2 separate regions of the Homo sapiens genome follow, and region 2 is linked to region 1. Evidence: fine-mapped expression QTL. Tissue or cell type: whole blood. Region 1 holds a variant in brackets; the other region holds the start of a gene. All regions are shown on one strand. Distances are from middle to middle.

The links. PIP is the estimated chance that this variant, and not a neighbour inherited with it, causes the effect.
Region 2: AAMDC starts here. The variant in region 1 is fine-mapped to the expression of AAMDC in whole blood (TOPMed, PIP above 0.99).

What each region holds. Positions count from the first base shown.
Region 1 is chr11:77,870,892-77,873,741 of GRCh38, reverse strand. AAMDC (adipogenesis associated Mth938 domain containing) reads right to left here. Exons shown (of 4, transcript NM_024684.4): 4 at 1,390-1,567. The coding sequence ends at 1,427. It also overlaps a transcript of RSF1 not described here. Among named protein-coding and RNA genes, the nearest start is that of AAMDC, 51 kb to the right of the region's middle. The variant T/C (reference allele first, on the strand shown) is at 1,409.
Region 2 is chr11:77,819,709-77,822,208 of GRCh38, reverse strand. AAMDC (adipogenesis associated Mth938 domain containing) reads right to left here and starts at 1,065. Exons shown (of 4, transcript NM_024684.4): 1 at 968-1,065. RSF1 (remodeling and spacing factor 1) reads left to right here and starts at 1,487. Exons shown (of 16, transcript NM_016578.4): 1 at 1,487-1,681. The coding sequence starts at 1,495. RefSeq lists silencers at 1,028-1,187, 1,778-1,867, 2,008-2,097 and enhancers at 1,288-1,427, 1,438-1,607, 1,160-2,132, 2,133-2,500.

The sequences.
Region 1 (2,850 bases):
TCCTTAATTTTCCTTCCATCCTAGTGGGATAAATTAGTCTTTTCTTTGTGCCACCACTGGACCTAGTAACTATTATAATATTAACATTGTATCATTATTGTTTACTTATTTGTCTTTCTCTCATACAACATAATTCCCAAAGGCAGGAATTGTAACATTCATCCTTATTCCCCCAGGGCCCAACAATAACTGGTCATAAGAAAATTAGTAATAGGCTGTCCGTAAATGGATATGAAAGAGAATTACTGAATAAATGAGTGAGATAGTTCCTTTGGGCTCCAACATTCTATGGCTCTTTGAAATAATAAGCTGCTATATTAAGAACCATAAAATGAAACTAGTTGGCTTTACACAGTATCCCCATTAATAGAAAGATAAGGACAACAGTGGTTTAATGTATTGAGTCCTTACTAAATGCCATGCAGTGAGTTAATACTTTCTATGAATTGCCTCATTTAATACCTACAATGACTCCAGGTACTGCTAATGTTATCCTGATCTGACAGATGAGAACAGTGAAACTAAGAAATTAGACAAATACCCAACCAGTGAGTGGCAGTGAGCTGCAGTTCAAAGTCAAGGCTATTTGACACCAAAGCCCATAGTTCTTTAAAAAGAAAGAAAAATTAAAAATAAGGTGATGCTGATAGCTTGTAGTTCTCTCAGTCTATTCTAAGGCTTCACAAAGGCCACCTCGGTATTTAATAGAACAAAGACTATCTGAGCCAGTAGGAACCTTTAAAGGGCATCTAGCCAGCCCCAACATTTTATACTTGAATTTTTTCTTTTTTGAAACGGAGTCTCTCACTGTCACCCAGGCTGGAGTGCAGTGGCACCATTTCGGCTCACCGCAACCTCTACCTCTTGGGTTCAAGTGATCCTCCTGCTGCCTTAGCCTCCCAAGTAGCTGGGATTACAGGCTCGTGCCACCATGCCCAGCTAATTTTTGTAGTTTTAATAGAGATGGGGTTTCACCATGTTGGCTAGGCTGGGGTTGAACTCCTGACCTCAAGTGATCTGCCCACCTCGGCCTCCCAAAGTGTTGGGATTACAGGCGTGAGCCATGGCGCCTGGCCTATAGTTGAAATTTGAAGCCCAGAGAGAACAATCTGGCTCCAGTCTCAGGGTTGGTTAGTAGAACAGCCTGTCTAGAACCCAACTCCCAGGGCATACTCCTACTGTTCCTGTTACTCAGATGTTCCCTCAGTTCATTCACTATATTATTAAACTTCTGTCTCATCTTTTTTTCTTTTAGCACCCTCAAGGACAGGGACCTTGTCTTGGTCATCCCTGCATCCCAAGAGCCTAGCACAGGACCTGGCATGAGTAGGTGTCCAAAAATGTTTAGGGGAGGCTGGTTTGGAGAATGGTGAGTGACAGTCACAGGCATAGGCACTTAGTGATTTAT[T/C]CTCCTCTTAAGGCTCCATCAGCAGGTGGAATGGAAGACACCTCCCACCCTGACCCCTTGGGCAACCAAGGCATTATACTCCTTCACTGCCTGCTCTGTCTGGAGGACCCGCACATCAATGCCATGTTTCTTGAGGTACTCCACAGTTGATGAAGGCACCTGGGAAGGTGGAAAAGAGATGAGTAAGTAGGGGGAAAGGCCCCCCAGGGGTTCCTTTACTGCCATGAGGCAGGTGTACTCTACAGAATTAGACAGTGACAATCGTCACTTCACGATCACTCAGTGTATCACCAGTCCAAAATTTGGCAGTGAGCCCCAATGAGTCAAAAAGGCCTCTTTGTCAGAGGTATCATAATACCCATGCATAAAGCTCAAGTGAAATGGAAATGAAAGAACATGGGATTTGCAGTTAGCCTTGGATTTACATCCTTACTAGCACTGTAACCTTGGGTAAGTAAATTAAATTCTCTGAGTCTTTGTTTTCATGTCTGTAAATTAGGGACATTAACACCTAGGGTTGGTATGACAACTAACTGAGCTAAGGGTATGTGAAACATCTACCTTGGTGTGCAAACTCCATAAATGTTAAATGTTTGAGTTAGTCTAAACTGAGTCTAAATTTCTTCTTTGCCGCATGCTAGCTAAGAAATGTTAGGCTAGCTCTTTAAAGTCTCCCAGCCCCAATTTCTTCCCTTGTAAAATAGGTATAATAGTACTTACATCACAGGGTTGGTGTGAGGATGAAATTGACTCATGTATGTACACTGCAGCTCAAATGTCTTCTCACAAAGGCCTTTCTTGCCCACCCCCTACTAGCCCAGCATAAGTCACCATTTTCCTCACTGCGTTTATTATTATCTGAAGTTGTCTAGTTTTTTATTATCCATGAGGGGCATGAACCTTGTTTGTCTTGTTTATCGCACCGTCACCAGTTTCTAGAATAGTGCCTTACCCATAGAAAATGCTTAATAAATATCTGTAAATGAATTTATATAAAAGATGTTCTTAATAGTGACAGCTATTATTAGATATTTTCTCAACTCTGGCTTGTCCTGAATATTTTTTAAAAATAGATTTTAATTAGACTCTGCCTCAGAAAGAACTCAAGTGAAATATTTTTTAATATGCCCTATATTTTCTATATATTTGAGATTTATAAAAGTACCCTATCAGATAGGAATTATTGTAATGGGGAAAACAAACTAGTTTAAAATTTTAAAATATAAATAGGCTGGGCATGGTGGCTCAAGCCTTTAATCCCAGCACTTCAGGAGGCCAAAATGGGAGGATTGCTTGAGCCCTACTGATGAAGGTGCCCTATATATATAAAGCCCTAGATGTAAGGGGCACCTTCATCAGTAAGGAACAGGACTGTAAGACATCTATAAAGGAAAGAATGAGGTAGGCCTCTATATGGATGACTATCCATAATACAGTAATGT
Region 2 (2,500 bases), 51 kb after region 1:
CTCGGTTTCCCAAAGTGTTGGGATTACAGGCATGAGCCACCGCGCCCGGCCAAATTCTTTTTAGGAATTAGGTACTACATTGAGTTTTAAATGCACTCAGAAAATTCTCAAAGTAATAAATTATAGACTAAATAAATATAGCGGAATTCAGTCTAAATTATAGGAACTCCTTTTTTGATAACTAATATTTTTAAAGTACTCACTATGTGCTACGGCACTGTGCTAATCACTTTACTGTGATTTATCTAGTAATACCGTATGATGTAGGTACTATTATCACCCCACTCTAAGGAGTTCAAAGAAATAAAGAAACCTCCACAGTGTCATGAAGTAGCCCCGCTAGGACTCAGGCCTGGCTGAATCCAAAGCTCAGGCTTCTAAGCATAACGTGTACTGCTGCTTCTCAGGCTGCACATTCTATTTTACATTATTGGTAGTTTCTCTCTGGCGTTCTTTGTGGGAATGTTCACTGCCCCCGCCCCGCCCCGAAGTGGAACCCTGTCTTCTAACAAACTTTTCGCTGCTCCACCGTCTCCTGTCATGTTCCGCCTCTCAATGGAGTCCCAGCCCACACTCCGATTCTGGTCCCTGAACAGAGCCCCTTCCCCTCACACCATGGCCCCCTAGCAGAGCCTGGTCTCCTCAGATCCTCTTCTCCCAGCAGGGCCCCAACTCCTCACTCCGACGATTCCCCCAGAGTTCCGTTCCCTCAGATCCTGCTTTTCCAGCAAAGCTGCGATTCCTGTACCCCAGCAGAGAGCAATACCCCGTCGGCAAACTTCCACAGAGACATCTTACCGAGGTCCCAGCCCAGCCCCTAATTAAGGGCACACCTCTACCTTTCCCCTTCCCAACCTTCTCCCACAACTGTGCTTTCCCCCGCCCTATTCCCTTTTTCTGTTTATTAATTCTCCTCAACCTCTCCACCATCTCGTGGCCCAGTTTCAGGATTCCCCCGCAAACTCACCCACCGCACTGTCTCCTCAAAGTTGCGTTCCCAAACGGCGCAGTGCTCTGCCCGCACTTACGCTCCCAGCGCTGCTTCGGGATCTGCGCTCCCCAACTGCCCTCCGGGAATACGCCCTGCAGTTGAACAGCGCCCGAGGCCCCGCCCCCTCTGCGTCCATTGGCCATTGTTCTCGAGAAGTCCCGCCCCTCCCGCTTCCAGCCCGCCTCCCCGCCCCGCTTCCCTTGTTTTCATTCCCCCTGTCACACGAGGCAGTGGCAAGCCCGAAGGGGAGGAGAGAAGGGGGCGGAAAGAGGGCGGAAAGTGAAAGGCGCCGAGGGCCGCTCTGTCTCCCGTCTGACTCGGTTCTCGACTGCTCCGGGCCGCCGATGTATTGTGGGATCGCGGAGCCGTCCCTGAGACGCTGGGATCCGCAGAGGAGCCCACTTGAGAGCGCCTCCTGTCGTCTGTAAGGTTGCCTTGCCATCCCTCGGCACCACAACTTCCCCCGCCCCCCCATCGCCTCCTCCTCCATCCTCCAGTTCAAAATGGCGACGGCGGCGGCAGCGGCGGCGGTGATGGCTCCTCCGGGCTGCCCGGGTTCGTGCCCCAACTTCGCCGTAGTCTGCTCCTTCTTGGAGCGCTACGGGCCGCTGCTAGACCTGCCTGAGTTGCCGTTCCCTGAGCTGGAGCGGGTGCTGCAGGCGCCGCCGCCGGACGTCGGCAACGGAGAAGGTAAGCGAGGGGCCCGAACGCCCGGCGGGAAGCGGCCCTGGCGCTCTGCTACTCTCCGCTCTTCACAGGCGCCCCGGTTCTTCGCGGCTCGGGCCTCCGCGGCTCTGTCTTCCCCCTGGGACGCAACTCCGCCGGGCTGGTCTTCTCCGCCCAGCCCCCGGGGTCTTGGGCAGTGGGGAGGCGGGGCGGAGGCCCCCTAGGGCCACTCGGCCGGGCGGGGAGCTGAGGTGGAGGCGTTGCGGGCTAGGTGTGGGCTGGAGGCGGGGAGGGGTCATTGTGCCGGTCGGCAGCCCCGGGGACTGCTTCTCCGCGGCGGAGGGCGGCCCCCCACCCCGTCTCCCCCTTGGCGGCGGGGGAAGGGGAGCGCAGGTTCCGGCCAGCTTTGCGCTTTTCTCCTCCTCCCCACCCTTACTCCCTCCCCTCCTCCCACCAGTCTTCCCGACCATCTCGGGGAAGGCTGGGCTCGGCTGCTCCGGACACCTCCTTATCTCCCTTCACCTGGGTGGGCGGGGGCCAGCGGACACTCAACTCTCCCTCCCTCTGTTGGGAACTCCCCTGAGAGATTTGTCCCTTTTCCCTTCCCCTCGAGGGCTGCTTTAACCCCTAAAACTCCTTCCTTGAAGTGGGGAGGTCTGCTCCTCCCCCACGGGAGGGGGTTCTTCTCCATTCTCGGTAGGGGGGCGAAGTCGGTTCAGCTCCACTGTGGAGAGGAGAGGGTTAATTCCTCCTCCATAGTTCTCCTTCCTCTCCCCACCTCCCCCAAAATAATAGGCGAGCATCTCCCCACTTTTCCAATCCCTTCCCCCTTCATCTTGGCAG